Homo sapiens: one gene and its partner. Each later gene encodes a partner of the first gene's protein in a complex. Each region holds a gene or a part of one and is shown in the gene's direction. Other genes may lie near its edges.

Evidence for each region.
Region 2: APOO (region 1) and MICOS13 share a complex: the UniProt entries of both Homo sapiens proteins name them as parts of the mitochondrial contact site and cristae organizing system (MICOS) complex.

The regions. Positions count from the first base shown.
Region 1 is NC_000023.11:23,859,247-23,863,051, reverse strand, and holds part of APOO (MICOS complex subunit MIC26 precursor), read left to right. Parts: intron 1-3,805. UniProt on the Homo sapiens protein: Component of the MICOS complex, a large protein complex of the mitochondrial inner membrane that plays crucial roles in the maintenance of crista junctions, inner membrane architecture, and formation of contact sites to the outer membrane.
Region 2 is NC_000019.10:5,677,734-5,682,054, reverse strand, and holds MICOS13 (MICOS complex subunit MIC13 isoform 2 precursor), read left to right. Parts: upstream 1-1,538; 5' UTR 1,539-1,568; coding exon 1,569-1,597; intron 1,598-1,804; exon of another isoform or gene 1,805-1,905; coding exon of another isoform or gene 1,906-2,000; intron 2,001-2,291; coding exon 2,292-2,469; intron 2,470-2,658; coding exon 2,659-2,710; intron 2,711-2,824; coding exon of another isoform or gene 2,825-2,832; exon of another isoform or gene 2,833-3,157; intron 3,158-3,406; coding exon 3,407-3,504; 3' UTR 3,505-3,633; downstream 3,634-4,321. UniProt on the Homo sapiens protein: Component of the MICOS complex, a large protein complex of the mitochondrial inner membrane that plays crucial roles in the maintenance of crista junctions, inner membrane architecture, and formation of contact sites to the outer membrane.

The DNA.
Region 1 (3,805 bases):
TTGGATATAGTGTTTTCATTCTTGCCCAAACAATATGGCGGCTTGCAGCATCCAGCTGAAGGAAAATATCTTCTTTTCCTCCCTCCCTCCCTCCTTCTCCCTTCCCTGCCCTCCCCTCCCTCTCTCCCCTTCCCTCCTTCTCCCTCCCCTTCCCTCCTCCCTCCCCTTCCATCCCCTGCATCCCTCCCTCCCCTCCCTCCTTCTCCCTTCCCTTCCCTCCTTCTTCCTTCCCTTCTCGTCCCGTCCCTTTCTCTTCTCTTCTCTTCTCTTTTCTTTCTGAGAGATGATCTCACTCTGTCACCCAGGTTGTAGTGCAGTGGCATGATCAGGGCTCACTGCAGTCTTGACCTCCTCAGGCTCAAGCAATCCTCCCATCTCAGCCTCCTGAGTAGCTGCGACTATAGGCATGCACCACCACACCTGACTAATTTTTTTTTTTGTGGAGACCGGGTGTCACCATGTTGCCCAGGCTGGTCTCAAACTCCCGAGCTCAAGCAGTCTTCCTTCTTCAGCCTCCCAAAGCGCTAGGATTATAGGCATGAGCCACTGCGCCCAGCCTATCTTGTGTATCTTTGAAAATTTACTCTCATTCTTTTTCCTTCCTCAACGCATTAATTAGCAATTGAGTTATTTAAAAGGACCCTATGTGTCTCTTATATTTTCTTGATTATTTTATTTTGTTCCTTTTGAATTTTTTTTGCTTTGGTCATTTCCAAGAGCTCCTTCCTGTTCTTTGAATGTTCTTTTTTTCATAGAATTATTTTTTTCTTTTAATGTAGTGGCTTTTAAAATTTATTTGATGATACTTAGTAATAGGTTTAGTTTTGTTTTGAAGTTCTTCTGTTTCCTTTGTGCTTGTCTTGGTCTTTCTCCTTTATGTTTCAGGCTTTCCACAAATGACTGGTGATTCTTGGTTATCCAGTCATGTTTCAAAGTGAGGCAGCTGAAATGCTAATAAGAACTCTTTCACCTGTAATCCCAGCACTTTGGGAGGCTGAGGCAGGCGGATCACCTGAGGTCAGGAGTTCAAGACCAGCCTGGCCAACATGGGAAAACCCCATCTCTACTAAAAATACAAAAAATAGCCGGGTGTGGTGGAGGGTGTCTGTAATCCTAGCTACTCAGGAGGCTGAGGCTAGAGAATCACTTGAACCCAGGAGGCAGAGGTTGCAGTGAGCTGAGATCACGCCACTGCACTCCAACCTGAGCAACAGAGCAAGACTCCGTCTCGGGAAAAAAAAAAAAAAAAAAAAAAGAACTCCCTGTCTGTACATGGGGCCCACTGACGGGCAGGTTCTACCTCAGGGGAGCTGGGCAGGAAGTGACCATATACAAGGGTGCACCCAGGGCCAGTGTGAGGAGGGCTTTTCTCTCAGGCACTGACATACTCACCCCTTCCAGCTCTCTTGGTTCTCAGCAGGAAATCCATGGTGTTTCTTTAGTGATACCCTGCCCCCACTGTTTTAACTCTTTTTTTTTTTTTTTTTTTTTTGAGACAGGATCTTGCTTTATCACCCAATGTGTTAGGCCATTCTTGCATTGCTATAACCTAACACTGGGTAATTTATAAAGAAAAGAGGTTTAGTTGGCTCACAGTTCTGCAGGCTGTACAGGAAGCATGGCACCAGCATCTCCTCGGCTTCTGGTGAGGCCTTGGGCTGCTTGCAATCATGGTGGAAGGCAAAGGGGGAGCTGGTGTCTCACATGGCAAGAGTGCGAGCAAGAGAAAGAGGTGGGGGAGGTGTCACACATTTTTAAACAACCAGATCTCAAGAGAACTCACTGTTGCACAAGGACAGCACCAAGGGAATGGTGTTAAACCATCTGTGAGAAATCCACCTTCATGATCAGGTCACGTCCCACCAGGCCCCACCTCCAACATTGGGGATTACAATTTAACATGAGATTCAGAGAGAACAACATCCAAATTATCACCCAGGCTGGAGTGCAGTGGCATAGACACAGCTCACAGTAGCCTTGAACTCCTGGGCTCAAGCAATCCTCCAGCCTCAGCCTCCTGAGTAGCTAGGACCACAGGCACATGCCACCACACCTTACTAATTTTTTAATTTTTTGTAGAGATGTGGTCTCCCTAAGTTGCCCAGGCTGGTCTCAAACTCCTGGGCTCAATCAGTCCTCCCACCTCAGCCTCCCAAAGTGCTGGGATTACAGGTGTGAGCCACTGCATCAGGCTCATTTTTTTTTTTTTTTTAAAGGAATAGAGATGGGGGGCTGGGCGTACTGGCTCATGCCTGTGATCCCAGCACTTTGGGAGGCTGAGGCAGGTGGATTGCTTGAGCTCAGGAGTTCAAGACCAACCTGGGCAACATGAGGAAACCCCGTGTCTACAAAAACTACAGAAAAAAAAAAAATTAGCCAGGCATGATGGCTTGCACCTCTTGTCCCACCTACTTGAGGGGCTGAGGCAGGAAGATAGTTTGAACCTGGGAGGTCGAGGCTGCAGTGAGCCATGATTGTGCCACTGCACTCCAGCCTGGGAGACCGAGTGAGGCCCTCTCTCAACAGAAAAAAAAGAAATGGAGATGGAGTCTCGCTATGTTACTCCAGCTGGTCTCAATTCCTGGCCTCAAGCAATCCTTATGCCTCGACCTCCCCAAGTGCTAGGATTACAGGTGTGAGCCACCACACCCAGTAACCCTGGTTTACTGGGTTTTTTAACATTTTGAACTGGTGTGACTTCCTGGCCAGGGGTAGTTTTGTACTGGGATGGCATAGGGGAAGGAAAGGCCATGCTGGTCCATGCATCGGACTTGCGTTTGTCCTGTGCCCTTGTCTTGCTCCCTGGTTGCCATCTCCACTCCCCATGGTACCTGCCATCTCTGGATCTGGAATCTCCCTGGGGCTGCCTGGGACAGATCTGCTCCCTCTGAGGCTGCACTCCTCCTCAAGATTTCAAGATTTCAAGGCAGTGTGTCCTCTTATTTCCGTTCACTCTCCATTTTCTGAAAATTGATTGACACTTCCTTTCTGCCAGTGGCCCTTCCACACATTTTCTCTTCATTGTGGGTTTATTAATGTTTTTTCTTACTGTTTTTTTAACGGGGTTGCAGAAAGGGGAGAAGAAGAACGCTTGTGTTTAGTATTTATATAGGAAGCCAGATTGCTATAAAAGAACATAAACCCTAGAAACCAAAATACTCATTTGTTTATTTTTAAAATAATCTTTTTTTCTGCTCTCTTAGGGAAAAAAAGGTGTTCTTTTGAAAACACTTGGTGCTGAGTGAAAGAAGCCAGTCACAAAGGACCGTATATTTACTGCATGATTCCATTTATATGAAATACCCAGAGGGCCGGGCGCAGCGGCTTACACCTGTAATCCCAGCACTTTGGGAGGCCGTGGCGGGTGGATCACCTGAGGTCAGGAGTTCGAGACCAGCCTGGCCAGCATGGCGAAACCCCATGCCTACTAAAAATACAAAATTAGCCGGGCATGGTGGCGTGTGCCTGTAACCCCAGCTACTCGAGAGGCTGAGGCAAGAGAATTGCCTGAACCCGAGAGGCAGAGGTTGCAGTGAGCCAAGATTGCGCCATTGCACTCCAGCCTGGGTGACAAGAGCAAAACTCTGTCTCAAAAAAAAAAAAAAGAAATATCCAGAGTAGGCAAACACATAGAGATAGAAAGTAGATCAATGGTTGCCTAGGGCTGGACGGTACGGGGGAGTTGAGGAATGACTGCTAATGGGTTTCTTTTAGTGATTATGAAAAAGCTCTAAAGTTAATTGTAATGATGGTTACACACCTCTGTCAATATACTAAAAGCCATTGAACTGTACTTTAAATGGGT
Region 2 (4,321 bases), on another chromosome or scaffold:
CACCTTTCCCAGACACACCAGGCATGCCCACAGCAAGAAACGAGCTTCCACCTTTTCCCCTTCCAGGGACAGCCCATGAAGCTCCTCTGCTCATCCCTCTTTCCACCCCCAGCTCTACACTGACTGCAGCAGCCCGGCAGGGGGAAGTGGGACCAGATGGACTGACGGGTGGACGGATGGGTGGATGGATGAATGGATAGATGGACAGATGCATGTATGGATGCATAGATAGAAGGATGGATGGGTGGATGGCCAGATGAATAGATGGATGGGTGGATGGATGGATGATGGACGGAGAGATGTATGGGTGGATAGATGGATGAGTGGATGGATGTATGAATGGATAAATGGGAACACATAAATGGATGGATGGATGGATGGATGGATGGACGGACGGATGCATGGATGGATGGATGGATGGATGGATGGATGGACGGATAGATGAGTGGGTGGCCAGATAAATAGATGGATGGGTGGACAGATGGATGAGTGGAAGGATGGGGGGAGCAGATGGATGAATGGATGGGCGGACAGATGGATGAACGGAAGTGTGGATGGATAGATGGAAGGATAGATGGGTGGATGGCCAGATGGATAGACGGGTGGGGGACAGATGGATGGATGGGCAGATGAACGGTTGAAGCAGCCCGGCCGAAATGCGGGAGAAATGGGGGGAAGCCCTGCAGAACGCATCGGCCCCTTCTTGACCTCGGCGGGCCTTAGCTTCCCCTCTGAACAAAGCGGGCGTGTGACCCTCTGCGCACCCCTAAACCGTGCACTCACCCGCTCAGGCCTCAGTTTCCCCCACTGTCCAGCGGGGGTGGGGTCCCGGGCTGGGAGCCACGCGAACGCCCCCACGGTCCTCTCTTCTCGGCCGCCTCCTGCCGGGTCCCCGACCGCACCCCCTCCCGTAGGGCACGGGTCACGTGACTCGAAGCCCACCTCCTCCCGGGGAGGGGCCGGGCCTCGGGGACCCAGCGCCGGAGCGTCGCCGGGCAACAGTGCCCGCCTGGTCTTCGCCTCCCAGCAGGGGCCCGGCCCCGCCCACTGGGCGGACGCCCCGCCTCCGAATCGATCACGTGAGGGGGCCGCAGCGCTCGAACAATCCCGCCCTCTCGTTGCCGTGACAACCGCCTTGTAGGCACACTCTTCTTAAATCCGGGCCCTTGGTCCCCCGCGCGGGCGCGGGTGGATCTCTCGGGCTCTGACTTGTTTTCGGGTCACCTTCAGGCTTCAGCCAGGCACCTGACGCCTCTTTCCCCTCACGGTGCCAGGGCCGGGCCGAACTACATTTCCCAGGAGGCTCCGCGGCCAGGTGCAAACAGCGCCGTGCTGACTACATTTCCCAGACAGCCTTGCGGCGGCCCGGGCCTTAAAGCGTCCATTTCCCAGCGGCCCTCCGCTGCGAGACCGCAGCCCTTCTCTGGAGTCTCAGAGCCGCAAGACACCACGACTCCCAGAGGACCTTGCGTCGGGCAAGAAAGACTACACCTTCCAGAGGCCTCTGCGGCGCCGCGACAGGAAGCGGCGGGCGAGCCGAGTGTCCTTGCGCGTGGATCCGAGCGACCATGGTGGCCCGGGTGTGGTCGCTGATGAGGTGCGTGGGGGCGCCGGAGGGGACCCGAGTCCCCGAAAAAGTCCATTTTTGTGGGCATCCCTGTCTCCAGTCTGGTCCCGATCTGCTCTTCGCTTCCCTTAGAGTCACTTCCCCTTCGTTCCCCGCCTATGGGCCAGATAGGGAAACTGAGGCTTCAGAGGGGCGGGGCTTCCCGAGGTCGCCAATCCCCTCCCTCCTGCTTCCCAGCGAGCCCTTGGCGTTCAGTTCGCGGTGTCAGCCTCCGCCTCCGAGCCTCAGTTGTCTTCTCTGTGAGGTGGGAATGCCGGTGAATCCTGCCGCTGGCGTGGATGAGAAGTGAATGCGTGCTCGGAGCTGCGAGTGACAGCGGGCAGGAGGCGCCCAGGGACACTTGGTTTCTCCAGGGCTGGAAGGCTTCTAGAAGGTCAAGATCTTACGTCTTCACTGCCCCTGCTCACTGTGGGACTTTGAGTGACCCACTCTCCCCCTCTGGGTTTCAGTTCATCAGTTCAAGTGGCGTCCAGCCGCCCTGCCTTGCACGTTGTAAAACGAGTGCTGTATATAATAGGGGTCTGGGTCGACGGTGCTGCACTACAGAGTGTCACCCTGTGGACGGTGAGCCCTCAGGAGGGTCTCACTCTCCCCGTGGGCCTTGGCCCCTGAGGGTGGCTGTCAGTGTCCGCTGAGCTTCTGCTCCTCCCGTCCCTGCCCGCAGGTTCCTCATCAAGGGAAGTGTGGCTGGGGGCGCCGTCTACCTGGTGTACGACCAGGAGCTGCTGGGGCCCAGCGACAAGAGCCAGGCAGCCCTACAGAAGGCTGGGGAGGTGGTCCCCCCCGCCATGTACCAGTTCAGCCAGTACGTGTGTCAGCAGACAGGCCTGCAGATACCCCAGGTACTACGGGCCGGGAACGAGGCCAGGGTTTGGCGGGTGGTCAGCTCTGGGAGGTCCCTCCAGCCCTGCACGATGTTGTCCTCCATATTGATGCTGACCTGATTCTCCGGCCTGTCCTCCTCCCTCCGCCTCTGGGGATGGGCTGCTGAGCCTTTTCACCAGTTCTTTCTGCCCATCTCTTTTTCCCAGCTCCCAGCCCCTCCAAAGATTTACTTTCCCATCCGTGACTCCTGGAATGCAGGTAAGGCACCCAGTTTCTTTGCTTGGAGGGAGACACCCCAGTCTAGCCCCTCTCCCCACTTCCTGGCCATTCCTTTCTGTCCATCCTCCTTCCTGCCCGACACGTGTCTCTTAGGGATCTAAAAGGGAAAGGAGGCCGAGCACAGTGGCTCACGCCTGTAATCCCAGCACTTTGGGAGGCTGAGGTGGGCGGATCATCTGAAGTCAGGAGTTCGAGACCAGCCTGGGCAACATGGTGAAACCCCATCTCTACTAAAAATACAAAAATTAACCGTGCGTGGTGGTGCACACCTGTAATCCCAGCTGCTGCTTGAGAGGCTGAAGCAGGAGAATTGCTTGAACCCAGGAGGCAGAGGTTGCAGTGAGCCGAGGTTGCACCACTGCACTCCAGCCTGGGCGACAGGGCGAGACTCCATCTCAAAAAAATAAAATACAAAAATTAGCCTGGTATGGTGGCGCACTTGTAGTCCCAGCTACTTGGGAGGCTGAGGCAAGAGAATCGCTTGAACCCAGGAGGCGAAGGTTGCAGTGAGCCGAGATTGCACTACTGCACTCCAGCCTGGGAGACAGAGTGAGACTCCATCCCCGCCCCCCACCCACCCCCCACCGCCCAAAACAAACTCTAGAGTTTCCCAGGGGTTGGAGGCTGGGTGAGGCTGGGAGGGGAGTATCACCAGTGGCCGTCCCTTTCCCACAGGCATCATGACGGTGATGTCAGCTCTGTCGGTGGCCCCCTCCAAGGCCCGCGAGTACTCCAAGGAGGGCTGGGAGTATGTGAAGGCGCGCACCAAGTAGCGAGTCAGCAGGGGCCGCCTGCCCCGGCCAGAACGGGCAGGGCTGCCACTGACCTGAAGACTCCGGACTGGGACCCCACTCCGAGGGCAGCTCCCGGCCTTGCCGGCCCAATAAAGGACTTCAGAAGTGTTCCCTGACCCGTGTGCTGGCCCCAGGGAGCACAGGGTTGGCCTGGTGGTGCCCAGAGCACCGAGGCCTGGGCTTCTGGCTCCTGATGGCTTGTCAGGGCTTGACCTTGACCACAGGCCATAGCACTCCCCTTTGCCGTCTGCTCTGGTGCGGGGAGTCAGAGGTCAGAGCGGCTGCTCCCGGTGCTCCAGAGGCTGTGCTCTGGGGCCAGGAAAGTGCTTTGGCCAAGCCTGGGTTGTGGAGGGTCTTGGTTTTGGAGGGCTGAGACCAGGGTAGGACAGTGGAAGAGCCAGAGTGGATAGAAGTGGGGTCTGCTTCCCTGCGGGACACAGGGCAGGAGCCCCCAGGGCCACTGGTTCCTGCCCTCCTCAGCTCCTGTCCGCAGTCCTGTCCCGGCCCTTCCTTGGCCGGACTCCACCCTCATTCCACCCTCTCCCGACAACCCTAGCAGGGGAATCCTGGTCATTGAAGGAAATCCAGGTGTTTGTTGCCATTCAGAGGGTCTCCCGGACATTGCCTCTCCCCTGGGACGCCTTCCCTGACACCCCTGCCGCACACTGGCCAGGCTACCTGGCAGCCTGCATGGTTCCCCCGCATCAGGCATGAGCCCTGGGAGGCTCCCAGCACCCAGCCACAGAGGGCGATCCACGGGGTTGGGTGATGGCAAGAGGCCTGTGCCCAGAAACCA